4 linked regions of the Homo sapiens genome follow. The protein of the gene in region 1 interacts with the protein of each later gene in a biochemical or structural test. Each region holds a gene or a part of one and is shown in the gene's direction. Other genes may lie near its edges.

The links.
Region 2: the proteins of VASP (region 1) and IQGAP1 form a complex in vitro, tested with the Homo sapiens proteins (one study listed by BioGRID).
Region 3: the proteins of VASP (region 1) and XIRP1 form a complex in vitro, tested with the Homo sapiens proteins (one study listed by BioGRID and IntAct).
Region 4: the proteins of VASP (region 1) and DNMBP form a complex in vitro, tested with the Homo sapiens proteins (one study listed by BioGRID).

What each region holds. Positions count from the first base shown.
Region 1 is NC_000019.10:45,517,477-45,524,500, forward strand, and holds part of VASP (vasodilator-stimulated phosphoprotein), read left to right. Parts: intron 1-186; coding exon 187-358; intron 359-452; coding exon 453-618; intron 619-3,473; exon of another isoform or gene 3,474-3,767; intron 3,768-3,845; coding exon 3,846-3,930; intron 3,931-4,691; coding exon 4,692-4,741; intron 4,742-4,863; coding exon 4,864-5,105; intron 5,106-5,241; coding exon 5,242-5,342; intron 5,343-6,167; coding exon 6,168-6,219; intron 6,220-6,364; coding exon 6,365-6,401; intron 6,402-6,620; coding exon 6,621-6,666; intron 6,667-6,800; exon of another isoform or gene 6,801-6,837; intron 6,838-7,024. UniProt on the Homo sapiens protein: Ena/VASP proteins are actin-associated proteins involved in a range of processes dependent on cytoskeleton remodeling and cell polarity such as axon guidance, lamellipodial and filopodial dynamics, platelet activation and cell migration.
Region 2 is NC_000015.10:90,475,236-90,482,259, forward strand, and holds part of IQGAP1 (ras GTPase-activating-like protein IQGAP1), read left to right. Parts: intron 1-1,427; coding exon 1,428-1,583; intron 1,584-1,831; coding exon 1,832-1,995; intron 1,996-2,429; coding exon 2,430-2,654; intron 2,655-6,724; coding exon 6,725-6,865; intron 6,866-6,961; coding exon 6,962-7,024. UniProt on the Homo sapiens protein: Plays a crucial role in regulating the dynamics and assembly of the actin cytoskeleton.
Region 3 is NC_000003.12:39,189,576-39,196,643, reverse strand, and holds the start of XIRP1 (xin actin-binding repeat-containing protein 1), read left to right. Parts: upstream 1-4,048; 5' UTR 4,049-4,198; intron 4,199-7,068. UniProt on the Homo sapiens protein: Protects actin filaments from depolymerization. Required for correct cardiac intercalated disk ultrastructure via maintenance of cell-cell adhesion stability, and as a result maintains cardiac organ morphology, conductance and heart beat rhythm.
Region 4 is NC_000010.11:99,950,941-99,957,964, reverse strand, and holds part of DNMBP (dynamin-binding protein), read left to right. Parts: exon of another isoform or gene 1-759; coding exon 760-2,751; intron 2,752-7,024. UniProt on the Homo sapiens protein: Plays a critical role as a guanine nucleotide exchange factor (GEF) for CDC42 in several intracellular processes associated with the actin and microtubule cytoskeleton.

The sequences.
Region 1 (7,024 bases):
GCCTGTCTCTCCTGATCTGATTTTCTCTCCTGATCTGTCTCCCCCGTCTCCTTCTGTCCACGTGGCTCCTGCCTCCCTCTGTGTCACTCTCTTCCTTCCACACACTGTCTTTGTCCCTTGGAATCTCCCAGGAGAGACCCAGATAAGAAGGTGACCGGCCCCTCTCCCTTTTCCTCCCGCCTGCAGCGAGACGGTCATCTGTTCCAGCCGGGCCACTGTGATGCTTTATGATGATGGCAACAAGCGATGGCTCCCTGCTGGCACGGGTCCCCAGGCCTTCAGCCGCGTCCAGATCTACCACAACCCCACGGCCAATTCCTTTCGCGTCGTGGGCCGGAAGATGCAGCCCGACCAGCAGGTGCAGCTTCCCGCCGGCCCCCTCTGTGGGCTGAACCCCTACCCGCCCCACCCCTGCGCCCGCCGCCCCTCACCCCCCTTTCCCCTCCCACCAGGTGGTCATCAACTGTGCCATCGTCCGGGGTGTCAAGTATAACCAGGCCACCCCCAACTTCCATCAGTGGCGCGACGCTCGCCAGGTCTGGGGCCTCAACTTCGGCAGCAAGGAGGATGCGGCCCAGTTTGCCGCCGGCATGGCCAGTGCCCTAGAGGCGTTGGAAGGTCAGAAATGGCGGCGGGCAAAGGGGACCAGTGAATGCGGCTGTGTGGCCTGGGGCTGCCGCTTTACCCTGCTGGGACTTGGTTTACTCGTCGGTAAAATAGAGCGAATTCATTGTTATCATGGAAAATTATCACTAGCATTTTGTGCATTCCAGTGTGACCGTGTGCACCTATGTGTAAAATGCACCATTGGCCCGGCGCCGTGGCTCATGCCTGTAATCTCAGCACTTTGGGAGGCCGAGGCACACGGATTACCTGAGGTCAGGAGTTTCACCGTGCCCAACATGGTGAAATTGCGTCTCTATTAAAATTCAAAAATTAGCTGGGCGTGGTGGTGCGCGCCTGTAATCCCAGCTATTCGGGATGCTGAGGGACGAGAAGTGTTTGAACCCAGGAGATAGAGGTTGCAGTGAGCCGAGATCAGGCCACTGCACTTCAGCCTGGCGACAGAGCAAGATTCCGTCTCAGAAAGAAAACAAACACAAAAAAAATGCACGATTACTCAGGGATCAGTACTCCATGAACTTTACACAGGCACACTCCCGGGAAACCACCTCCCAGATCAAGACATAGGTAGGTCCTGCCCCAGAAACAGGATCTCGCTCTGTTGCCCAGGCTGGTGTGCACTGGCACAATCATGGCTCTCTGCAGCCTTCACCTCCTGGGCTCAAGTGATCCTCTTGCCTCAGCCTCCTAAGTAGCTGGGAATACAGGTGTGCACCACCATACTTGGCTCTTTTTTTGTTTTGTTTTTTGAGACAGAGTCTTGCTCTGTCACCCAGGCTGGAGTGCAGTGGTGCAACCTCAGCTCACTGCAACCTCCACCTCCCGGGTTCGCGTGATTCTCGTGCCTCAGCCTCCTGAGTAGCTGGGATTACAGGCATGTGCCACCATGCCCAAGCTATTTTTTTGTATTTTGTTTTTATTTTTATTTTTTTGAGACAGAGTCTCACTCTGTTGCCCAGGCTGGAGTGCAGTGGCACGATATTGCCTCACTGCAACCTCCGCCTCCCGGGTTCAAGCGATTCTCCTGCCCTAGCCTCCCGAGTAGCTGGGACTATAGGCGTGAGCCACCACACCCGGGTAATTTTTTGTATCTTTAGTAGAGACAAGGTTTCACCGTGTTAGCCAGGATGGTCTCTATCTCCTGACCTTGTGATCCGCCCGCCTAGGCCTCCCAGAGTGCTGGGATTACAGGCATGAGACACCATGCCCGGCCCTTGTATTTTAGTAGAGAAGGGGTTTCACCATATTGGCCAGGCTGGTTTCAAACTCCTGGCCTCAAGTGATCCACCTGCCTCTGCCTCCCAAAGTGCTGGGATTATAAGTGTGAGCCACCATGTCTGGCCACCTGGATCATTTCAAATTTTTTTTTTTTTTTTACTTTTTGTGGAGATGGTCTACAGGCTGGTCTTGAACTCCTGGGCTCAAGTGATCCTCCCACTTCAGCCTCCTAAAGTGCTGGGATTACAGGCATGAGCCACTACACCCAGCCCAGTTGCTTTTTTTTTTTTTTTTTGGAGACGGAGTCTCGCTCTGTCCCCAGGTTGGAGTGCAGTGGCGCGATCTCCGCTCGCTGCAAGCTCTGCCTCCCGGGTAAATGCCATTCTCCTGCCTCAGCCTCCCGAGTAGCTGGGACTACAGGCACCCGCCACCACATCCAGCTAATTTTTTGTATTTTTAGTAGAGACGGGATTTCACCGTGTTAGCCAGGATGGTCTCGATCTCCTGACCTCGTGATCCGCCCGCCTCGGCCTCCGAAAGTGCTGGGATTACAGGCGTGAGCCACTGCGCCCGGCCTTTTTTTTTTTTTTTTTTTTTTTTTTTTAATATGGAGTCTCACTCTGTCTCTCAGGCTGGAGTGCAGTGGTGTGATCTCAGTTCACTGCAACCTCCGCCTCCTGAGTTTAAGCAATTCTGCCTCAGCCTCCTGAGTAGATGGAACTATAGGTGTGCACCAACATGCCTGTCTAATTTTTGTAGTTTTAGTAGAGACGGGGTTTCGCAGTGTTGGCCAGGCTGGTCTCGAACTCCTGACCTCAGGTGATCCACTCGCCTCGGCCTCCCAGAGTGCTGAGATTACAGGCGCGAGTCACGCGCCCAGCCCAGTTGCTATTTCTTAAACCTTAACGTGCACATGAATCACCTGGGGATCTGGTTAAAGTGCAGGCTCTGGTGCAGGTGGGCTGGGCGGACTGAGACTCCACATTCTCACAAGTGCCCTGGTGATACCCAGGCTGCTGGTCTGCGGACGTGACTGAGTAGTGAGGTTTTAGGTGACTGCCGTGCATCTGGCCTGGAATCACTGCTGTAGAACTGAAAGTCACCAAATGCAGGGGTGTTTGCTTCGTGGGACAACTTCTGTGCTAGTGCGGAAGGGGCTTGCTCCTCTGGGGCACACAGAAAAATACAGTGGGCTTCAGTTGAGTCATCTGTAAATTGGGGCTAATTCATTGTTAATTCGTAGCCAATTCAATTCAGGTGCTAGGGCCAGAGGCCTGGAGGTAGGTGAGGAAGAAGCTCTTTACCTTTCCAGGTTCTTAGGTAAGGTCCAAGTGGCTGTAACAGTGGTTAAGAGCTAGCCAGGGGCCAGGTGCGGTGGCTCACGCCTGTAATCTCAGCACTTTGGGAGGCTGAGGCAAGTGGATCACTTGAGGTCAGGAGTTCGAGACCAGCCTAGCCAACATGGTGAAATCCCATCTCTATTAAAAATACAAAAATTAGCCAGGCATGGTGGCAGGCGCCTGTAATCCCAGCTACTCAGGAGGCTGAGGCAGGAGAATCTCTTGAACCCGGGAGGTGGAGGCTGTGGTGAGCCGTGATTGCACTGCTGCACTCCAGCCTGGGTGACAGAGTGAGACTCTGTCTCGAAACAAACCAACAGTGGTTAAGAGCCTGGCTGCTGGAATCAGCCTGAATTCAAGTCTTGTTCCTGCACATTCCACCCTGGAGAAATCTGGGGCAAGTGACTGTTCCCCGGGCCTTAGCTTCTCCTGTCACTGGGACATCACAACAGCACCTACCTTAGGGCAACTCAGGCCAGGGAAGTTGGTGCTGCCTCACCTCCCAATGTGCGTCCTCCTGGGCCTGGAGCCTCAGGGCCTCTGGAAGGAGGAAGTGAGCGCCTCTGGGCAGGATTCCTGGGAGGCCTGGGAGAGCAAGGGAAGCGCCAAGAGCTGAGCAGAGTTCTGGGACTGATCCATGGCCCTTTCTCTCTCACCTTTCAGGAGGTGGGCCCCCTCCACCCCCAGCACTTCCCACCTGGTCGGTCCCGAACGGCCCCTCCCCGGAGGAGGTGGAGCAGCAGAAAAGGTGGGGCTGGGCCCTGGGTGGGGAACCTTAGCCGCTGCCAGAGTTCCATATGTTCTGGAACCCTTGACTCCTAGAGTTCAGAACCCAGCCAACTTGCAGTTTTCAGAATGTTCAAGAAACTTCTGACACTCAGAGTTGCAGAACCTCCTGGTCCCTGCAGATTCCTGGAAATCAGAATATGGTGGTTGAAAGAATCTTGTGGCTGGGCGTGGTGGCTCACGCCTGTAATCCCAGCACTCTGGGAGGCCGAGGCGGGCAGATCGCCTGAGGTCAGGAGTTTGAGACCAGCCTGGCCAACATGGCGAAATCCCGTCTCTACTGAAGATAACAAAAATTAGCCGGTCATGGTGGCGCCCGTGCCTGTAATCCCAGCTCGGCAGGCCGAGGCAGGAGAATCGCTTGAACCCGGGAGGCAGAGGTTGCAGTGAGCCAAGATCGAGCCACTGCACTCCAGCCTGGGTGACAGAGTCTCAAAAAAAAAAAAAGAAAAGAAAGAATCTTGGGCATTTTGTAATTCGGTGTTCCTGACAGTTTAGTGACTGGGATCTCGCATCCTGATCTCTCCCTGTCGCTGCCCTGCCCTCCATTCCCCCTACTCTCACCCAGCCCCCTTCTTGGTTCCCTAGGGGAGGAAGGCTTGGGTGAGTATTAGGAGCCAGCCACCCTGGAGACCTCTGAGAGAGAGGACGGAGGTCGCTGGCCCCTTCGCTGGCCATCCTTAGGGCCCTGATTGACGGCAGCTCTCTCGCCTCCCCCCACAGGCAGCAGCCCGGCCCGTCGGAGCACATAGAGCGCCGGGTCTCCAATGCAGGTGATGCTCAGATAGCTTCGGGAGTTGGGAGGGGGCCTCCCTGGAGGAAGTGGCCAGCCAGCTGGACAGTGAAGAATGAGGCTTCTCTCTCTCAGCTGCCCCCTTTTCTGTGTTTGTTTCAGGAGGCCCACCTGCTCCCCCCGCTGGGGGTCCACCCCCACCACCAGGACCTCCCCCTCCTCCAGGTCCCCCCCCACCCCCAGGTTTGCCCCCTTCGGGGGTCCCAGCTGCAGCGCACGGAGCAGGGGGAGGACCACCCCCTGCACCCCCTCTCCCGGCAGCACAGGGCCCTGGTGGTGGGGGAGCTGGGGCCCCAGGCCTGGCCGCAGCTATTGCTGGAGCCAAACTCAGGAAAGTCAGCAAGGTGAGGGGCCGGGAGAGGTGGGCAGGGGGCAACAGGGCTTTTATGGGGGATGAGGCCAGGGCTGCCGGCGGTGTCATTGGGCTGGAAGGCCAAAAGGCCTGCCCCTAAAGCTCCTGCCCCTTTTAAATTTCTCCAGCAGGAGGAGGCCTCAGGGGGGCCCACAGCCCCCAAAGCTGAGAGTGGTCGAAGCGGAGGTGGGGGACTCATGGAAGAGATGAACGCCATGCTGGCCCGGAGGTGAGCCTGAGCCTGGACCCCCAAGTCACCTGGAGTTCCAGTTCAGTAGGGCCCAGTCAGAGGAGGGCTCCAATTCCTGTTTAGTTTGTTTCTTTTGGTGAATGTTCCCCCTTTGATAACCAGGTTTGGGATATAATGGTGGGGTTTGTCATGAAATGCCTGAGGCTTGCAACCACCTAGGTAGCCTGTAGATGTTCTAAAACCCAGAATTCTAGAACCGTAGGAGATCCTGCCTCAGAATTCTGGGAACTCAGGTTCCTGCAATCTCAGTGTTCCAACACAGCACCGCTCCACCCTCGGAATCTTACTGTTCCCTAATATAAGAATCATAGAACCTCCTCCACCCTGATTCTAGAACCACAATCTCTTGAATTTTTTTTTTTTTTTTTTTTTTTTTTTTTTGAGATGGAGTCTTGCTCTGTCACCCAGGCTGGAGTGCAGTGGTATGATCTCGGTCCACTGCAACCTCCGCCTCCTGGGTTCAGGCAGTTCTTCTGCCTCAGCCTCCTAAGTAGCCGGGATTACAGGCATGAGTCACCACACCCGGCTAATTTTTGTATTTTTAGTAGACACAGGATTTCACCATGTTGGCCAGGCTGGTCTTGAACTCTTGACCTCAAGAGATCCACCTGCTTCAGCCTCTCAAAGTGTTGGCATTACAGGCCACTGCGCCCAGCACAATCTCTTGAATTTCTAAAACTAGAGTTTCCTTAGGTTTTCGGAGTTCCAGAATTCTATGCGCTAGGATCTACATTTCTAGAACTCCCCTCAGAAGGGGATGGGTTGGGTGACGGAAGCACGTGTTTTTGCTTTTCTCTCCTGCAGAAGGAAAGCCACGCAAGTTGGGGAGAAAACCCCCAAGGATGAATCTGCCAATGTAAGTCAGGGACTCTTCTTGCCCTACATCTCTTAGGCCGTACCATGAGGGTAGGGATAGTGGGATGTGTGGGGTTTGAACCTGAAAGAGGAAATGGGCAGAGGTGTGGCAGGGGCTGGCTCATGGCAGTTTTATTTCCTACCAGCAGGAGGAGCCAGAGGCCAGAGTCCCGGCCCAGAGTGGTGAGTAGAGTGCCCAGTCCAGCCACAGGAACTACAAATCCCAGAATACTCTGTTCTCACATGTTAAGCACCCTTATAGGAGAGTCAGGGCGAATGGTGCTGGGGATTGTAGTCTCCTGAGATGGGGCTTTGATCAGGGGCTGATGAGGTTGGGGGAGTAAGATTGATTGGGGGGCAGTCTTTTGTCCCTGATCTTTCTGATTTCTTGCCTATCCCCAGAATCTGTGCGGAGACCCTGGGAGAAGAACAGCACAACCTTGCCAAGGTAGGCCATCGGTCCTGGGGCCCTTGGGGAGGTAAAGGCGGGCAGATCGCTTGAGCCCAGGAGGTCAAGACCAGCCTGGGCAACATGGCGACACCCCATCTCTACAAAAATTAGCCAGGCGTGGTAGCACTTACCTGTGGTCCCAGCTACTCAGGAGGCTGAGGTGGGAGGATTACTTGAGCCCAGGAAGTTGAGGCCTCAGCGAGCCATCATCATGCCTGCACTCCAGCCTGAGAAATAGAATGTGACTGTCTCAAAACAAAACACAACAAACCAAAACCAAAAAAAAAAAAAACTGGGGCCCCAAAAATACTTGGACTTGCCCAATTTATAAGGCAGAGCTCAATGTGACCCCTGG
Region 2 (7,024 bases), on another chromosome or scaffold:
TGATCCACCCGCCTCAGCCTCCCAAAGTGCTGGGATTACAGGCGTGAGCCACGACACCCGGCTTTTTTGCATTTTTAGTAGAGACGGGGGTTTCACCATGTTGGCCAGGCTGGTCTGGAACTCCTGGCCTCAAGTGATTGATCCACTCACCTTGGCTTCCCAAAGTGCTGGGATTACAAACATGAGCCACCATGCCCGGCCATCATAAGCTTTTAAAAAAGTTATGTAAGACAGGTCAGGCATGATGGCTCACACCTATAATCCCAGCACTTTGGGAGGCCGAGAAGGGCGGATCACTTGAAGCCAGGAGTTTGAGACCAGCCAGGCCAACATGGTGAAACCCTGTCTCTACTAAAAATTAAAAAAAATTAGCTGGACATGGTAGTACATGCCTGTAATTTCAGCTACTCAGGAGGCTGAGGTGGAAGAATCGCTTGAACCTGGGAGGCAGAGGTTGCAGTGAGCCAAGATTGCATGACTGCACTCCGGACTGGGTGACAGAGTGAAACTCTATCTCCAAAAAAAAAAAAAAAAAAAAAATTATTTAAGACATAAAACAACTTAATTGACAAAATTTTGATAGAGAAAAGAAGATAAATGTCTTCCCCTAATTTCACCTACCCCAGTCATTTTGTATCTTACATTCTTACTTCATATTAAAGGATAAGACTCTTTCCCTATGATAAGTAGTCATAATTTTTTTTTAATTTTATTTTTTGAAACAGAGTTTCCCTCTGTACCCCAGGCTGGAGTGCAGTGGCATGATCATGACTCACTGCAACCTCGACCTCCTAGGCTCAAGTGATTCTCCCACTTCAGCCTCTCAAGTAGCTAGGACGACAGGTGCATGCCACCACGTCTGGCAAATTATATTTTTATAAGAGATAGGGTATCTTTGTATTGCCCAGGCTGGTCTCAAAACTCCTGGGCTCAGGTGATCCTCCTGCCTCAGCCTCCCAAAGTGCTGGGATTACAGGTGTGAGCCGCTGCACCCAGCCATAAATATTATTTTTAACAGTAGCATATTAGATTTTTAGAAGATATACTATGATTTACCTCTTTTTCCCCTAGTATTTGACATTTAGGTTGTTTTCCAAGCGTTTATTATAAATAACATTGCAATTAATGTTTCAATATATATGTAGCTTTTATTGTATTTAAGACTTATTTTTATAATAGACTGCTGGAAGTTGGTTTGCCAATTCAGTGGACATTCTTATGGCTCAGATTCTTTGTTGGAACATAGGAATGGATTTGACTGGTGTACTGAAAACAGGATAAAGTGTAGTGGTTTTTAAATATTCAGTGGGAATCTGCCAGTGCAGTACACCTTCATGTGAGTTTGCACATGCTGCAAAACCTTTCCTCAATGCCCAGAGGTTCATCTTTGAAAGCTTTCTGATCTATTTATTGGTTTTTGTTTATAGGATGTGGTTTCCCACAGTAAAAAACTTACCAAAAAAAATAAGGAACAGTTGTCTGATATGATGATGATAAATAAACAGAAGGGAGGTCTCAAGGCTTTGAGCAAGGAGAAGAGAGAGAAGTTGGAAGCTTACCAGCACCTGTTTTATTTATTGCAAGTAAGTGGCTCCTGGAATCAGTGTTATAAAAATTTAGTGAATTTATTTTTCCACAAGAAAGCCTTACCATCGATCTCTCTGGAAGTATTTTTGACTTCCACTGAGGGGTGAGTGAGGGGCACTGTAACATGTTAATTTATTAATCTTTTTTCTCATATGTATTGTAGTCCTTCAATTTTAAATAATTGAATATATCTTGCCAGCCTTTATATTACCTACAAATGACTTATCCCTTGGTTTTATTTCAGACCAATCCCACCTATCTGGCCAAGCTCATTTTTCAGATGCCCCAGAACAAGTCCACCAAGTTCATGGACTCTGTAATCTTCACACTCTACAACTACGCGTCCAACCAGCGAGAGGAGTACCTGCTCCTGCGGCTCTTTAAGACAGCACTCCAAGAGGAAATCAAGTATGAACAGATTTCCTCAGGGCACAGGCCCCTTCCCACTATCAGAGGGGCTCCCAGTTTGAGATTCATGCCTTCCTGATCTTTTCTTGATCTCAATTAATTTATGAAAAATACTTACTCTAAAGAAGCATCTAATTTTTAAATAACTGATATAAAATCTTGCTGCTTCTAGGGAAGGGATAAATTAACTTTAGGAACATTCTGTATTAAGGTATAATTTCAAAAAGTAATCTGAACAGAAAGAATTCACATTTTTATCTAGTAGCGGACCCAATCATGACCACGATTGAGCGTGCAGCTGCAGGAACATTCTGTGAGTGCTGGGGAATGTTTCGAGAGAAACTGTTTCAGGGAGATAGGATCTTTAAGCAGGAAGGATCTTTTAAGTTGATGGGTTTTGTGACAAGTTTAAATTTTTATCTGATGTTTTATAGGTCGAAGGTAGATCAGATTCAAGAGATTGTGACAGGAAATCCTACGGTTATTAAAATGGTTGTAAGTTTCAACCGTGGTGCCCGTGGCCAGAATGCCCTGAGACAGATCTTGGCCCCAGTCGTGAAGGAAATTATGGATGACAAATCTCTCAACATCAAAACTGACCCTGTGGATATTTACAAATCTTGGGTTAATCAGATGGAGTCTCAGACAGGAGAGGCAAGGTATGTTAACCATAATGACACTTTTCTTTCATGTTGTTATAGTCTTTCCCTCTTTTTTCCCCTCTCTTTATTTATAAACTAATATTAGTTCAAATAGTTTTTCTTTTCTTTTCTTTTTTTAGACAGAGTTTCACTCTTGTCGTCCAGGCTGGAGTACAGTGGCATAATCTCAGCTCACTGCAGCCTCCACCTCCCAGGTCTAAGCAATTCTCATGCCCCAGCCTCCCGAGTAGCTGGGATTACAGTTGCACGCTACCACACCTGTCTGATTTTTGTATTTTTAGTAAGACTGGGTTTCACCATGTTGGCCAGACTGGTCTCGAACTCCTGACCTCAGGCAATCCATCTGCCTCGGCCTCCCAAAGTGCTGTGATTACAGCTGTGAGCCACCACACCCAGCCTCAAATAGTTTTTCTTTAGAAAACTGTGCTTTCTAAGTTGTTGACCTAGTAATAAATTCACTTATTTAGCAAATATTTATTGAGTATTAACTATGTGCCAGGCATTGTGTTAGAGATGTGTACAGTAATGCAATAATGAGTGAAACAGACATGCTTCCTGCCCTCTCTTCATAGTTCATTGGGTGGAAGAGACACCAACCAGGTACATAAAAATAAAAGCATAATTAAACATTGAAGAAAGTTTTATGAAGTTTTATGTACGGTTCTTTAATGGAGACTTTATAAGAGGGAGCTAACATAAGGTGGTTAGGGAAAGCCTATCCCGGAAGATAAAATTTCATTTAGCTGAGGCCCTAAAGCTAAGATGAACCCAGCCTTACTAAGAGCTAGGTGCAGAGTGTTTATGTCTGAACACTCTAAGCTGGAGGGTGTAGGACTTAAATGGACCCTGGCATAACTAGGGATACAGTTGAATGAGAAGGTTCATATAGATTGGGTGAGATCACTGTGTTTCATTAAAGGAAAAAGAAAACGGTGTGGAGTGAGCTTCCCTGAAATATCGTGAGTTGGGCTAATTAAATTAACGTATTACAGGAGATAGCTGAGCTAGGGCCATAGCGTAACCACCAACATTCATTTATCTAAAGCAAAAGTGTGCCAATCAAATATTGGTAATGCTGGGAAAAGGGAGTTCAGAATGCCAAAACGTTTCTGGTTTTATTTGTCTTGGGTGAGGACCCAGAGGGGTGGGAGATGGAGGTGTGAGCAGCATGGTCTGTTGTGGTTTTTTCTTGTTGTGGAGTAGAGTTAGATCATGCATGAAGCTCTCTGGGCATAGGTGGAGTAGCAGCTGTCCACACCATTGCTATTCAAAGTGTGGTTTGCACACCAGTAATGGAAAATCATCTGTGCACACTGTTTAGTTTAACTGATACTTTTTTTTTCATAGCAAGATTTTCTTAATGAAGGAAGTAATGTATTGATTTACATTCTGACTCATTGTCTTTATCTTGTCTTTGATCAGTTTGTAGACTGGCACTGGTCCACACTTTGAATAACACTATTCTTCATTCTACTTTCCATGTACCCGGATGCCAGGCAAACAGGGAGTTTTACGCTGGGTGGAGAACGGAACATTCTGCTGACTCCTTGAAAGGGCTTATCTCACCAGCCATGGTAGCTCACGACTGTAATCCCAGCTCTTTGGGAGGCTGAGGTGGGAGGATTGCTTGAGCTCAGGAGTTTGAGACCAGCCTGGGTAACATAGGGATACCTTGTCCCTACTTAAAAAAAAAAAAAAAAAAAATTAGCTGGGTGTGGTTGTGCACACCTGTAGTTCCAGCTATTCCAGAGGCTGAGGCAGGAGGATAGGTTGAGCATGGGAGGTTGAGGCTGCAGTGTGCCTTGATGGCGCCACTGCACTCCATCCTGGTTGACAAAAAAAGAAAGAAGGGGCGTTTCCTTATTAGGAATCATTTGGCATCTGATTGGTTCTCAGTACCATGTAGGTCTGTTATCAGGACTCAGATCATTGCAAAAGTCTTTTTAATTTTTTTGCCTGCATACCTGAGGCCCACATCCAGGAATGTGGTCAGCCAAGTGCAATACTTGTCTGGGAAGTTTTGCCTGCAACCCAGGGCATTCCTTGCCGATAGCCCCATGTACACTGGCTCCGGGCTTCTCAGTTATTTCCTCTGATGGTCCATGAGTCAGTCATTTTCAGATCCAAAGCCCGCTGGACATTTCAGGATTGGTTTTCTTGTGGGTACCTATAAGAAACTGGTGTCTTATTTTGCCTTTCATAAAATGGAAATTGAGCCAGGCATGGTGGCATGCACCAGTAGTCCCAGTTGCTCAGGAGGCCAAGACAGGAAGATCGCTTGAGCCCAGGAGTTTGAGCACTGCCTGGGCAATGTAGACCCCATATCTTAAAAAAAAAAAAAAAAAAAAAGGAAATTGATTTGAACTCTTTTTAAGATACCAGTGACTGTGAGGGATGGTGGTGTGGTGGGGATCTGTCCTGCAGGTAAGCATCACAGGTCCCTTAGCTTTCTTCTTTTACTTCAGCCACCATACACGTAGCAAACTGGAATCTTGTCACCTCTTGGGAATGTTCTTTCCTAAAATCTCAAAGTTAATGTTCTGTTCTATCACCAACGTTTTTTAGCATATTGATTCCCTTGCTGGTTACTACTTTTAAAACTCATATAAATAATAAAATATACAATATTCTTTATTGTTAAGTTCCATGTATTTATTTATTTCTCATAGAATGTTTCTGTTGATTTTTGCAGAATTTTTGTGTTCATAGTCTACCAATTTTAATTTAGCCATGCTATGACAAATGAAGAGGGGTATCCCTATCTACTTGTATTTTTCTTTTTGTTGTTGTGGTTGAGACAGAGTCTCGTTCTGTTGGTCAGGCTGGAGTGCAATGGTGTAATCTCAGCTCACTGCAACCTCTGCCTCCCTGGTTCAAGCGATTCTGCTGCCTCAGCCTCCCGAATAGCTGGGATTACAGGCATGCGCCACACGCCTGGCTAATTTTTGTATTTATAGTAAAGATGGGGTTTCTCCATGTTGGCCAGGCTGGTCTCAAACTCCTGACCTCAGGTGATCCACCCGCCTCGGCCTCCCAAAGTGCTAGGATGACAGGCGTGAGCCACCACACCCGGCCTCTACTTGTATTTTCTAAGGCTGCCATAACAAATCACCTCAAATTGGGTGGCTTAAAACAACCGAAAGTCATGGTCTCACAATTGTGGAGGCCAGAAATTTGAAACCATTATCATGAAGTCGAGGTGCTGGAAGAGCCACGCTCCCTGCAGAGGCTCTAGTGGAAACTCTGTTTCTTGACTCTTAGAGCTTGTGGTGACTGTTGACATCCCTCAACTTGTGGCTGTGTGGTTCCAGCCTCTGCCTTTGTGGTCACATTGCCTTCTCTTCCCCTTCTGTGTGTACCAAAGCTCTCTCTGCCTCTTTTTTTTTTTTTTTTTTTTTTTTTTAAGACAAGGTCTTGCTCAAGCAGTCCTCCCACCTCAGCCTTCCTAGTAGCTGGGAATGCTAGCATGTGCTGCTGTGCCTGGCATAGCACTCCTATCCTTGAAGACCTCCTTCTGGTTTCTAACAAAGTCCAGATTTGTCAGTATCATATACGGGGTCTGTCATGGCCTGCTCCCTGTCTGCTTTTCCACTGTCATTTCTCCTGTCTCCCCTTCCTTCCTAGAAGACTCTTCCTCTCCTTTTTTCCTGAGTTCAAGCATCCCTTCGTTTTGGAAGCTTTCCTTGCTTTTTCCATTCTGAGTTGAAGCCCTTTCCCTATGGTCCTGTGGCACTTTTGGTGAACTGATTTACAGCACAATAGGTTTATAATCATCTGTTTGTGTGTCGCTCCCACCAGACTGTAAAAGACTGAAGAGAAGGTGTCATGTCTTGTATAACTTTTATTCCCAAGTGCCTGTTATTGTGCCTGGCACACAATTCAGGCACCTGATTCACAGTTAAAAACCTGCGTTCAGATTCTAGACTTATCACTTACCAGCCCCGTGAGGATGAGCTTAAGCTATCTAATATTTCTGGGTCTTATAGTTTATGAAAGATAAGACACTTGCTTCAGGCTGTTCCTGGCTGTTAGTCTAACATAGTTGGGTATAATTTCTGTCTTCCCAGCAAACTGCCCTATGATGTGACCCCTGAGCAGGCGCTAGCTCATGAAGAAGTGAAGACACGGCTAGACAGCTCCATCAGGAACATGCGGGCTGTGACAGACAAGTTTCTCTCAGCCATTGTCAGCTCTGTGGACAAAATCCCGTGAGTGCCATCAGTTGTCATGACCCCCAGTAGAACCCAGCACTAAGTGCCTTTCTGCTCCTTGGCCCTTCTCACTAAGTTTTGTCCATCCCGCAGTTATGGGATGCGCTTCATTGCCAAAGTGCTGAAGGACTCGTTGCATGAGAAGTTCCCTGATGC
Region 3 (7,068 bases), on another chromosome or scaffold:
ATGGAGCCCTACTTGGAGGGAGGGGCTGGTAGGAGATGATGCCCTGGACCCTAAAAACCAGTAGGCTCCCAAAGAGAGGACTGCGATAGCTGGAAGGGAACCACCCTTCCCTCATACCCCCTCCCCGAGCACCTCTCTGCCTGTTGGCAAAGATCAGCTGTTCAACCTCAGGATATTTATTTATTTCCAGCCTCGTTCCCAAAATGATTTGAGAGAGCTTAAAGAAATAGATGCACAGTATCTCCACTGTTAAAAAAATGGAGCTCAGACCTGAAGCATCCCTGAGCAGGCAAAACAAGTTAGGTCTCGTAAGGGACCTTACCCTTGCTTGATTTGCAGACATGCAAAACTGGAGCTCTTCCTTTCTTCTTTCCTTCCTTCCTTCCTTCCTTTTTCTTTCTTTTTCCTTCCTTCCTTTCTTCCTTTTCCTTCCTTCCTTCCTTCTTTCCTTCCTTCTTTCTTTTTTCTTTTCTTTTCTTTTTTTTGAGACAGGATCTCACTTTGCCACCTAGCCTGGAATGCAGTGGCATAATCACGGCTCACTGCAGCCTCCACCTTTCTGGCTTAAGCGATTCTCCCACTTCAGCCTCCCAAGTAGCTGGGACAACAATTGCATGCCACCACACTCAGCTAATATTTTCTTTTATTTTTTGTAGAGATGAGGTCTCGCTATGTTGCCCAAGCTGGTCTCCAACTCCTGGGCTCAAGTGATCCTCCCACCTCAGCCTCCCAAAGTGCTCAGATTACAGGTGTGAGTCACCATGCCTGCCTTTGAGCTATTTCTTGTAAATGCCTATATTAAAGAAAAATAAAACTTAAGTGCAACTAATGAGAAGCAGCCAGCACAAATAATTATATAACCAGGGACTTTCCAATGGGATAGATCAAATAAGGCAACTGTATAACTGTAACCAATCAAATATTATATTTGCTTTACTTCTGTATCTGTCTTATAAAAACCTCCCGCTTGTGCTCCCTCAGTAGAGTTCCCAAGCCACTTCTGGTTTGGGACTGCCTGATTCAAAAATTGTTGTTTGCACAAATAAACTCTTAAAAAATTTATTGTGCCTCAGTTTACCTTCTTAATACCACTAAAGATACTCCAGTAAATAATGCCTAGTTTACTATCTTGACAGCCTCATAATTAATACCATGATGATGTGATATCATTAGATCATTACACATAGAGTGACTAGCTTGTCCTGGTTTTGTTAGAACTTTTCCAGTTTTAAAACTGAACATCCCTTGTCTTGCAAAACTCCTCAGAGACAGACAACAAAAAGTTGGTCACCCTCATTACACAGGATTTGGACCATAAAGTCTACTTGCTAGGTTAAAAATTTAGCTCTGAGTTTCCTAGCAGCCAAGTCAAAGAGAAACACCATATGTCATAAAAATTGTTTATTCTATTGACAATTCTCCTTCCAGAAAAATTTATTTTCTTATTTATTTTAACATCTATAACAGCACTATCCGTAGAACTTTCTGAAATAATGCAAACATTCTGCACTATTCAATATAATAGTTTCAGGCTGGGTGCGGTGGCTCATGCCTGTAATCCCAGCACTTTGGGAGGCGGAGGCAGGTGGATCACCTGAGGTCAGGAGTTTGAGACCAGCCTGGGCAACATGGTGAAACCCCATCTCTACTAAAAATACAAAAATTAGCTGGGCACGGTGGCACACACCTGTAATCCCAGCTACTCGGGTGGCTAAGGCAGTAGAATCGCTTGAACCCGGGAGGTGGAGGTTGCAGTGAGCCGAGATCGCGCCACTGCACTCCAGCCTGGGCGACAGAGCGAAACTCCGTCTCAAAAACAAACAAGCAAACAAAATCAATATAATAGTTGCTAGCCACTTGTCTCTATGGAGCACTTCAAATATGGCTAGTGTAGTGAAATAACTGAGTTTTTATTTTATTTCATTTTAATGTACTTAAATTTAAATAGCCTCATTTGGCTAGTGGCAACTCTATTGGACAGCACAGCTGTACTAGATACAAAGAAACCAAGTGCTCAGGAAGAGCCTCTTTCCTAATATTGAGGCCTGAGGAATTTCTCCCATGAGTTATCACAGGAGGTGAGTACAAAAGTGAGTTCCACCTAGGGGCTTTTCTCTTTTTATATTATATACAGTATAATAGCTGGCTCTTCTAAAGCATAGGCTATGTGCTAAGTACTCTCAGGCACTTTTTTTTTTTTTTGAGACAGAGTCTTGCTCTATCGCCCAGGCTGGAGTGCAGGGGTGCGATCCCAGCTCACTGCATCTTCTGCCTCCCAGATTCAATTTTCCTGCCTCAGCCTCCCAAGTAGTTGGGATTACAGGTGTGTGCCACCACACCCAGCTAATTTTTTATATTTTTAGTAGAGACAAGGTTTCACCATGTTGGTCAGGCTGGTCTCGAACTCCTGACCTCAAGTGATCCACCAGCCTCAGCCTGCCGAAATGTGCTGAGATTACAGGCGTGAGCCACCGTGCCTGGCTGGAGGCACTCTTTTCATATAATAATTCCTTCAATTCTCAAAACTATCCTAGAAAGTAAGAAATTTCAGTACCCACAGGGAGAAAGCTCCTCCCAGGAGAAATCCTGAGAAACCTAAGGCTGCCCTTTCCCTGAAACACTGGTACATCGGTCTCCCTGCCCTTCCTAGAGAGAGCCAGGAGCCTGGGGGACAGGCAGAGGGCTAGAAAAGAGCAGGGGAAGAGACAAGAGGGAGGGAGACCAGGAAGAGGGGGTTCCCAGATGTCCTTACCCCCATCCCAGCTGACGCTGCAGGACTGACATTGACTACATGGAAAAAGTGAGCAATGTCTGGCATCACCCCCTGGTACCAGAGGGCATTTGGGGAGTCAGAAGGAAGACCTCATGTGCCAGGCCACAGAATGCACCTGCATACCCACAGGCATGGAGCCTGGGCCAGGCCCACCTAGGACAAAACACCTCTTTCGAGTTTTTTGCAGATGGTCCCCTGACATCCTTCACCACACTGGTCTGACTGCCAGGATCTCTTGGGCCTCCTGGGCCCCTCACGCCCTGGTAAGCAAAGGAGGAGGCAGGTGTGACCCCCCCACCCCCGCCGCCACTCCATCTGTGACTGGGAAGCTGATGACTCCAGGGTCAGAAATAACCCCACGGTCAGCTCCCTGCATGCCGCCCTTCCCCTCCCCTCCATTCCCAGAAAGCCTGGGCCCTGAGTCAGAGGGAAGAGTCGAGAAGAAAGGACTCAGATAATCTGGAATGAAAACCATAGAGTCCTGCTGTGGAATTCATTCATTGGGAGGCCGAGGCAGGTGGATTACCTGAGGTCAGGAGTTCGAGACCAGCCTGGCCAACATGGTGAAACCCCATCTCTACTAAAAATACAAAAATTAACTGGGTGTAGTGGTGCAAAGGAGGAGCTGGGCCTGGCCAATCTCGGCCCAGTGAAGAGCTGGGCCTGGTCATTCAGATGTCTTCCCCCCAAATCCAGCTTCATCGGGGCTGTGTTGACCTGTGCTGTGGGGCACAGGGTGGAATGGATAAGAAAGAAGGAACTCTTTAGTGCAGAAGGGAATGGGGAAGAAAGAGAGCTGAGCATCACACTCAGAGGTATCCAGGCTCAGAACAGAGGAGGAGGTGCCCAGCCTGCCCTCAGGAGACCTCCAGTCTCCTGGCACGGTGGGTGGAGACACGTCAGGAAGAGTCAGAGGCAGGGCCAGAGTAGAATGATGGGGGCTCACAAGACGGGAGCAAGCTGTCCAAGGTGTCAGATGCCTCTTCTTAGTCACTCTCTCAAAATAGTCTGGGACACCCCCAACCTCACAACCCAGCTGAGTCACTGACCCCAATCCCCAGATCAGACTTTGGATGAATGAAGCTTCTCCCCCTCTGTTTCCCCTCCCCAGCCCAAAGGACATGTAACTGATTCCCCAGGATGGAAGAGTGACTTCCACAAGACCTAAAAATAACCGAACCACTTAATACTCGGAACATAGCCTCTCCCACCCGCCCCCACCACGGCCCACCCACTAGCCAGCAAGATAAAGGCAGCTGCTGGGGCTGGCAGGGGACAGAGACCTGGAGCCAGGGCAGCAAGAAGGTGTCTGTTGGAGCCAGCAGAACAGAACCAATTTGAACAAGAACCTCCAGAGGAACGACGAACCCTGAGACCACAGCTGCTACAGACCACAAACACCCCATCAGCCAAGAGAGACCCTTGGTGAGTAACCTACCTCTCCATCCTTCCACAGCAAGGCTGGCTTTCACAGCTGGGATCCCCTCTCCTTCTGAAATGGACGTATTAGGAATGGCTCTGAGTAGGGGAAGGAGATTGAGGGGCATGCATGGGAGGAGGTGAGTGGAAGTCTCAGACATAAAGAACCCACAAAGGAGGTAAAGACAGTGTGAGCCCCATGGGAGCTCTCAGAGTGGCTGCCACAGGCCTGAAGCTAGCAGAAAGGATAGGCTCCTGCCAGGCTGGCATGATCCAGAAAGGCCTGGAGTTGTGATTTTTAAAATACAGGTATGGAGTGCCTCAGGCTTCAGGGCTTCCTCCCAGGGAAGCTTCAGGCAGGCCCAGGATCTGGAGGAAGGAGGAACAGGAGAGAGGTGGGGGCAGGGGGCTGTAAGTAGGCCTGAGTGTGCATTGCTAGAACAAGCCCCATGCCTAGTTGTTGTGGATGACACTCTTGGCATATCTGGCCCAGGGATAGCTCCCAGGGGCTGGCCGGAGCCCAGCTCCCTACATATCATAGCCTAAAACCTGGGGTGGAATTCGGACTCTGCCCATGTCCATAGTCTTGCCCAGTGGGAAAGCCCCCAGGGCAGATTTGGGGGGCTCACGGGAGGGAGACCAGATCTGAATTTGCCCAGATGTAAAGACATATGGAGCCAGCTGGGCCAAGGAGGAGGTGACCCGAGGACAGCAGGGGGACCATCCTGAGAGGCTGGCCCAGCCCTAGGAGACCAAGCTCTAGGACAGTTCTTGGGGCTCACCCCACGTAAGTCTGGTCCCAGTTATGAATTCTGTCCTGACTCTACACTTGTCCCAGCAGTCTCAAGCCAGGCAAAGATGGTGGTGGGAAGGCCAGGAGTCAGGAGACATGCTTCAGGCTTTGCTACTGCCTTGCTGAGCCTCCTTGGACAGCTCCTTTCCCCTCTTTGGGCCTCTGTTTCCCTATTTGAACAATAAGGGGTTTAGATTGAGTGACCTCTGAGGGTCCTTAGGCCTGACATCCCTGGACTCCATGATAATAACTGTCTGTGGCCTTAGCAGAGATTCTGGAAATTCCTGGGGGCGGGGGTGGGGTGAAGCTGATGGTGTGCACACACCATCTGCTCAGGCCACCCTGGTGGTGACAGGATGGAGTAGAGGTGGAGACAGGCTCAGGTTTGCCTTGGGCAGGGGATCCTCATTGGAGCTCAGAAATGAAAGAAAACCACCCAGAGCTTTGATGAGACTCAGGCTGCAGGTTTCAGAGCTCACATTCCCCAAAGGTTCTGATGTCTTTGGTGGACATGCCAGGGTGGGCATGGGGTCAGCAGGTCTCAGTTTCCTCTCTCCTCCTTCTGAGGTAGCCATAGGGAGGAAGTCCTGCCCCACTTACTTCCAGTACCTCCCCCCAGTGCAGACTCCTTTGGCCAGGGAAGGTGTCCAGGTTCTAGCACCTGGCTGGCCTGCAGCCCAGGGGCCTGACACCAGCCCAGGAGGCAGGATAGGGGAGCCCAGGCTAATGAAGGAGATGAGGTGAGCCAAGGGTACTGAGGGTCCCCACTGGCTGGGCCTCAGCCTCCCTCTGAGCCCAGGGCTGCTGTTCTGAGGCCAGGACCTCAGCTATATTTAGCACCCTGTGTGGTGCAGAGCAGTGGGTCAGGGGCAGCAGGAGGGGGCACGTGCTTCCCATTCTTTCCCTACTGGCCTCTGGGGACTGTTAGTACACCTGTCACAAGAGAGATAAGACATACATGGACAGAGACCAGAGAAGGGCTTGAGGGGTGGTAGGTCATTGAGGGGCGGGGGTGTAGCCGGGGAGAGGCTGAGCTGGGGTGGCCATGAGGCCTGCAGGGGTAGGGCTTAGCCTGAAGCCCCCCTGAGTCCGAGCCCCTGAAGCTGTGCTTGCTTGCTTAGAGAGCGGTATCCAGGAGCAAGAGGCAGGGCTGTCTCTGCAGAAAGGACCCTGATCCCATGGTCCTCTCCCTGGTTGTTGTCACCCTCATATCCTCCCAGGGGTGCCTGCTGGGGAATAGACGGGTTCTATGGCCAATAAGAAAGCTTTACACCTGCTACCCTCTTATTTCTTGGGGCCATGCCCTAAATGGAGTCTAGGGACCCCAAGCCAGCACGGCCTTCCATTTATTCACCAAGATCTGACTCTGGGCCTAAGTTCCCTCATCTTTATTTATAAATGATTGTGCTAAAAGACCTTTGAGATCCCCCTAGCTCAGACATTCTCAGTCTTCGAGTATAATGCAGAAAACCCTGACCAGATATTCAGAATTTGGATCTGGCCTAAGCACGAGATATCTGATGAGCAGCTTCCCAGCCCTGATTCTCAACTGCTTCCGCTCTAGCATGGGCTGTTGGCCTCTGCTTGCCTCCTTGGGCCTGGGAAAGGTTGGAGTGCGTTGACAGCCAAGAGGTAAAAGTTAGGCAGCGTTCCAGGTCAACATGGCAAGTCTGCCCTCTGGTGTTCTGCAAAGGAATCTCGTCTCCATAGGAAATCAGTCACCAGTTTAGAGACCTGCCTCTCCAAGGCTGGGACTCCAAAAGTCAGGATTCCCCCAGGCCACTCCCCTGGCAGTCTTCCAGGGAAACACTGATTTTTAACAAAGGAAGGTGAGGATGGGGCATGTCCAGTTTGCCCACTGGAGGTTTATGCGTCCCTTATGGAGCTAAAGGAAAGTGTCTCATGTCCAGTGGTACCATGGTCACTCCCTAGCAACGCATGAGATGTAGGGAAAGCAGGAACCCACTATGATTAATGGGTCCATGTCCTAAGTTCAAGACCTGTTGCCCACGAACCATGCAGGCAGCGAAGTGAAGCCCAGGCCAGGCACATAGAGAGAGGGAAGGAGTCTCTAAGCGTAAGT
Region 4 (7,024 bases), on another chromosome or scaffold:
ATGGTGTTTCACCATGTTGACCAGGCTGCTCTCGAACTCCTGACCTCAAGTGATCCGCCTGCCTTGGCCTCCCAAAGTGCTGGGATCACAGGCATGAGCCATCGCGCCCAGCCATTTTATTTTTATTTTTGAGACAAGTGTTGCTCTGTCACCCAGACTGGAGCGTAGTGGTGAAATCACAGCTTACTGCAGCCTTGACCTCCTGGGTTCAAGCTATCCTCCCACCTCAGCCTCCTGAATAGCTGGGACTACAGGCATGAGCCACAGTGCACAGCTAATTTTTAAATTTATTGTAGAGACAAGGTCTTGACATGTTGCCCAGGCTGGTTTTGAACTCCTGGTCTCAAGCGATCCTCCTGCCTTGGCCTCCCAAAGTGCTCGGATTTCTGGTGTAAGCCACAGCACCTAGCTGGCCAGCAGTTTTAATCACCATTGCTTTTTCACAGAGATTACAAAAGTCAGCAGAGTAAAATATGTAGATAAAGTCTTAGTGTTATTATGAGAATGGTTTTGACCTCACAGATTCTCTGCTAGGATCTTGGAGACCCACCTGTAGGGTTCCATGGAACACTCTGAAAACTACAGGTTTATAGAACTGCTCCAATTCAATAAATTGTCAAAATTGTTCATGCTCCTAAAGCTCTAGGTGTATTTCCTTGAATTTGGTAGCTGTTTAAAATGAGAGGTTGCACTATTAGTCGTGATAATGTTCTGCTGGGTGATGACTGAGGTCACCATCTCTGCTCCTCTTTTCTTTAGGTGACCTGGTGATTCTCGATGGCATTCCCACTGCAGGCTGGCTGCAGGGCCGAAGCTGCTGGGGCGCACGGGGCTTCTTCCCATCTTCATGTGTCCGCGAGCTCTGCCTCTCCTCACAGAGCCGGCAGTGGCACTCCCAGAGCGCCCTGTTTCAGATTCCGGAATATTCCATGGGACAAGCCCGGGCCCTAATGGGGCTTTCTGCTCAGCTGGATGAAGAGCTGGACTTCAGGGAAGGGGATGTGATCACCATTATTGGAGTTCCTGAACCAGGCTGGTTTGAAGGGGAGTTAGAGGGCCGAAGAGGCATTTTTCCAGAAGGTTTTGTAGAGCTGTTGGGGCCCCTGAGGACTGTGGATGAGTCAGTAAGTTCTGGAAATCAAGATGACTGCATTGTTAATGGTGAAGTAGATACCCCTGTAGGAGAAGAAGAGATAGGGCCGGATGAGGATGAGGAGGAGCCAGGGACCTATGGGGTCGCCCTGTACAGATTCCAAGCCCTGGAGCCAAATGAGCTGGATTTCGAGGTCGGGGATAAAATCCGAATTCTGGCGACCTTGGAAGATGGCTGGCTGGAAGGATCCCTGAAGGGCAGGACAGGCATCTTTCCTTACCGGTTTGTGAAATTATGTCCTGACACACGGGTGGAGGAAACCATGGCTCTGCCCCAGGAAGGCAGCCTTGCCAGGATCCCGGAAACTTCTTTGGATTGTTTGGAGAACACCTTAGGAGTAGAGGAACAAAGACATGAAACCAGTGACCATGAGGCCGAGGAGCCTGACTGCATTATTTCTGAAGCACCCACTTCTCCCCTCGGTCATCTGACTTCAGAGTATGACACAGACAGAAACTCTTATCAGGACGAGGACACCGCAGGAGGGCCCCCGAGAAGCCCAGGCGTGGAGTGGGAAATGCCTCTTGCCACAGACTCTCCCACATCTGACCCTACAGAAGTAGTCAATGGTATTTCCTCCCAACCTCAGGTCCCTTTTCATCCCAACTTGCAGAAAAGCCAGTATTATTCTACAGTGGGAGGGAGCCACCCGCACTCAGAACAGTACCCCGACCTTCTTCCCCTAGAAGCAAGGACTAGAGACTATGCCAGCCTACCTCCCAAAAGAATGTATTCCCAGCTAAAAACTCTTCAGAAGCCAGTGCTCCCTCTTTACAGGGGCTCTTCTGTTTCAGCTTCAAGGGTAGTCAAACCCAGACAATCAAGTCCTCAGCTCCACAACCTAGCAAGTTATACTAAAAAGCACCACACGTCCAGTGTTTACTCCATCTCAGAGAGATTGGAGATGAAGCCTGGTCCGCAAGCCCAAGGGCTTGTTATGGAAGCAGCAACACATTCACAGGGAGACGGCAGCACTGACCTGGACTCGAAGCTGACACAACAGCTGATCGAGTTTGAGAAGAGCTTGGCAGGGCCCGGCACAGAGCCAGATAAAATTTTACGCCACTTTTCAATCATGGACTTTAACTCTGAGAAGGATATTGTCCGAGGTTCCTCAAAGTTAATCACCGAGCAGGAGCTGCCGGAAAGGAGAAAGGCCCTAAGGCCACCGCCACCTCGTCCCTGTACTCCGGTATCCACTTCTCCCCATTTGCTGGTTGACCAGAACCTAAAACCTGCACCACCCTTGGTGGTGCGACCCTCTCGCCCAGCTCCCCTGCCTCCCTCAGCACAGCAGAGAACGAATGCGGTATCCCCCAAGCTCCTATCTCGACACCGTCCTACCTGTGAGACCTTAGAAAAGGAGGGCCCTGGTCATATGGGAAGGAGTCTGGACCAGACCTCCCCATGCCCCTTAGTGCTGGTGAGGATTGAGGAAATGGAGCGGGACTTGGATATGTACAGTAGAGCTCAAGAAGAGCTAAACCTCATGCTGGAGGAGAAGCAGGATGAATCATCAAGAGCAGAGACCCTCGAGGATCTCAAGTTCTGTGAAAGTAACATTGAAAGTTTGAATATGGAACTCCAGCAACTAAGAGGTAAGTGACGAGGAAATAATATGTAATTGTTTCTTGACACTCACAAGTCCCAGAAACAGCCTACCCAGGCTTTTTAGGGATATGTTACCATCCTCGATGGACAAAAAATGATTTACATTTTCATTACCTAATTTCTTTTCTTTTTTTTTTTTTCCTTTTTTTTGAGACAGTCTCGCTCTGTTGCCCAGGCTGGAGTGCAGTGGCATGAACTTGGCTCACTGCAGCCTCCACCTCCTGGGCTCAAGTGATTCTCCTGCCTCAGCCTCCCAAATGGCTGGGATTGCAGACATGCGCCATCACCACACCTGGCTAATTTTTGTATTTTTAGTAGAGACAGTGTTTTGCCATGTTGCCAGGCTGGTCTTGAACTCCTGGCCTTGGGTGATCCACCTGCCTCGGCCTCCCAAAGTGTTGGGATTACAGGCATGAGCCACCACGCCCGGCCTCTTTTTTTTTTTTTTTTTTTTTTGAGACAGAGTTTCGCTCTTGTTGCCCAGGCTGGAGTGCAATGGCGCGACCTTGGCTTACCACAACCTCTGCCTCCCAGGTTCAAGCGATTCTCCTGCCTCAGCCTCCTGAGTAGCTGGGATTACAGGCAAGCGCCACCATGCCTGGCTAATTTTGTATTTTTAGTAGAGATGGGAATTCTCCATGTTGGTCAGGCTGGTCTCGAACTCCTGACCTCAGGTGATCCGCCCACCTTGACCTCCCAAAGTGCTGGGATTACAGGCATGAGCCACCGCACCCAGCCTCACTACCTAATTTCTTATTTCATCACCCTAGATAGGCTGTCTTGAGCCTCTGACTCTGTTTTGAGCCTATGACTGCTGTAGCCTCCTGACTTCATTTGCTGCTCAGATAAAGAATCTCAAACCTTGCCGGGTGCGGTGGCTCACACCTGTGATCCCAGCACTTCGGAAGGCTGCGGTGGGTGGATTGCTTGAGCCCAGGAGTTTGAGACCAGCCTGGGCAACAGGGCCAAACCCTGCTTCTACAAAAAAATACAAAAAATAATTAGCCAGGAGTGGTGGTATATCCCAGTAGTCCCAGCTACTCGGGAGGCTGAGGTGGGAGGATTGCTTGAACCTGGGAGGCAGAGGTTGCTGTGAGCAATGATCATGCCACTGCTCTCCAGCTTGGGCAACAGAGTGAGACCCTGTCTCCAAAAAAAAAAAGAATCTCATACCTCGGAGACACATATACCTCTGGGACATTTATGTCTCTTATTCTGCTATGGCATCCATAGCAGTGGTGCAGATGGGAAGTCCCTAAGTAGAACTTTCTTTAATCAGGCTCCATTAAGCACTAAAGACTTCCAGGTTAAGAAAGACTCATGAGAAAACTCCATCTTGTATCTTTGCTGTCCAGAGAGTAGATTTCTTTTTTTTCTTTTTTTTTTTGAGACAGAGTCTTACTCTGTCACCCAGGCTGTAGTGGTGAGATCTTGGCTCACTGCAACCTGTGCCTCCCGGGTTCAAGTGATCTCATGCCTCAGCCTCCTGAATAGCTGAGATTACAGGTGCATGCCACCACGCCTGGCTAATTTTTCTATTTTTAGCAGAGATGGGGTTTTGTCACATTGCCCAGGCTGGTCTCAAACTCCTGACCTCGAGTGATCCACCCACCTTGGCCTCCCAAAGTGCTGGGATACCATGCCTGGCCAAGGGAGTAGATTTTAATAATAGTAATAGCTAACATTTATTACCATATTAGTAAGCATGTGTTAGAATTTGCCTACAGGAAGAATGTTCACAGCTACCCTAAAGGTACAATGATAATTCATATGGCTACTCTATAGATGAGGAAACTAAGACATAGATATTGAGTAGGCTCAAGCCTGTAATACCAGCACTTTGGGAGGCCGACGTAGGAGGATCACTAGAGCCCAGGAGTTCAAGAGCAGCCTGGGCAACATAGAGAGACCTGTCTCTTAAAAAAAAAAAAAGTTTTAAATTAAATTTGAAAAGAGATTAAGTGACTTGCCAAGGGAGTTGGGATTTAAGCTTATGTTTCTAACAACTATAGTTCACCGCTTCCTATACTGGCACACTGAAAATTCAAATTATTTCCCTTAATTTGGGAATGATAAGCCTCTGGAGACTTCATTCATATTCACCAGACTCACAGGAGAAAAAATTTATAAATAGGAAGAGTACAAGAGGTAGGCAACCAACAGCAATTGGTCTAGGGCCCAAGAACGTGAATACATGTCACTTTTGGCTTGTGTACCAGAGATTTGAACTTATGTGTCATCAGGAAAGTCAATAATAGAAAGCAACCCAGGGGGTCTAGGAATAGCAGGATACTAATAAGAGATAAAAGCAGAATGGTGATCCAGAGATCCTGGATCAAGATGGCAGACTGAGCACATATAGCTACCTCCCTCCCTTTCTACTTTAGGTCTATAAAAGTGAATGGAAATAATAGAATAAAAAAATTCCAATAAAAAAGAGTATTATTGGAAATCAAGTAATCTTCTGAAAGATGATATAGCAGAAAGAGAGGGAAACCTCTATTCAAAATATTCTTAGGAAAGGACTATTATGCATGTGGGCAGAGTTCTAAGGGAACTGCAGACTAAGAGATGGTGCGGTAGGAGGGGTCCTAGAGCACATTCAGTGTAATTGATTAGGGGATAGCTAGGGAGCCAGGCCGCTGGGTTGCTTGTACTGAACAGCAGGAGCATTTACCCTCAAGCTACAGCATGAAGTAGATGCTTAGACAAGTCCTCAAAAAGGTGTTCATTTAATATGAGTACTTGAGCTCTCAGGGGAATGCCAGATACCTTGATTTCAGAGTCCCTGAAAAAGAATTCTGAGGGAACCTTGGCTGAGTGTTACATTCCCAAAGCCCTAGCAAACTCCAGATTCTCCATCACTTTCTATACCTACAAGTTTCAAGATAAACCTGTAAACAATTCTTGCATTAGATATTGTATTAGTCCATTTTCACACTGCTGATGAAGATACCAGATACTGGGCAATTTACAAAATGAAGAGGTTTAATGGACTTACAATTCCACATGGTTGGGGAGGCCTCACAATCATGGTGGAAGGCAAGGAGGAGCAAGTCACGTCTTACATGGATGATAGCAGGCAAAGAGAGAGTTTGTGTAGGGAGACTCCCATTTTTCAAAACCATCAGATCTCATGAGACTTACTCACTCTCACGAGAGCAGCACAGGAAAGACCTGCCCCCATGATTCAATTATCTCCCACCGGCTCCCTCCCACAACACATAGGAATTCAAGATGAGTTTGGAGTGGGGACACAGCCAAACCATATCATTCTGCCTGGATCCTCCCAAATCTCATGTCGTCACATTTCAAAACTAATCATGCCTTCCCAACAGTCCCCCAAAGTCTTAACTCATTTCAGCATTAACTCAAAAGTCCACAGTTCGACGTCTCATCTGAGACAAGGCAAGTCCCTTCTGCCTATGAGCCTGTAAAATCAAAAGCAAGTTAGTTACTTCCTAGAAACAATGGGGATACAGGCATTGGGTAAATACAGCCATTCCAAATGGGAGAAATTGGCCAAAACAAAGGGGCTACAGGCCCCACGCAAGTCTGAAATCCAGTGGGGCAGTCAAATCTTAAAGCTCCAAAATGATCTCCTTTGACTCCATGTCTCACAACGAGGTCACACCGATGCAAGAGGTGGGTTCCCATGGTGTTGGGCGGCTCTGCCCCTGTGGCTCTCCAGGGTACAGCCTCCCTCCTGGCTGCTTTCACGGGCTGATGTTGAGTGTCTACAGCTTTTCCAGGCACACGGTGCAAGCTGTTGGTGGATCTACCATTCTGGGGTCTGGAAGATTTTGGCCCTCTTCTCACAGCTCCACTAGGTGGTGCCCCAGTAGGGACTCTGTGTAGAGGCTCTGACCCCACATTTTCCTTCTGCACTGCCCCAGCAGAGGTTCTCCATGAGAGCCCTGCACCTGCAGCAAACTTCTGCCTGGACATCCAGGCATTTCCATACATCCTCTGAAATCGAGGCAGAGGTTCCCAAACCTCAGTTCTTCTGTGCACCCGCAGGCTCAACACCACATGGAAGCTGCCAAGGCTTGGGGCTTGCACCCTCTGAAGCCATGGCCTGAGTTCTACATTGGCCCCTTTCAGCCATGGCTGGAGCAGCTGGGACACAGGGCACCAAGTCCCTAGGCTGCACACAGCATAGTGATCCTGGGCACAGCCCAGGAAATCACTCTTTCCTCCTAGGCCTTTGGGCCTGTGATGGGTGCAGTTGCCGTGAAGACCTCTGACATGCCCTGGAGA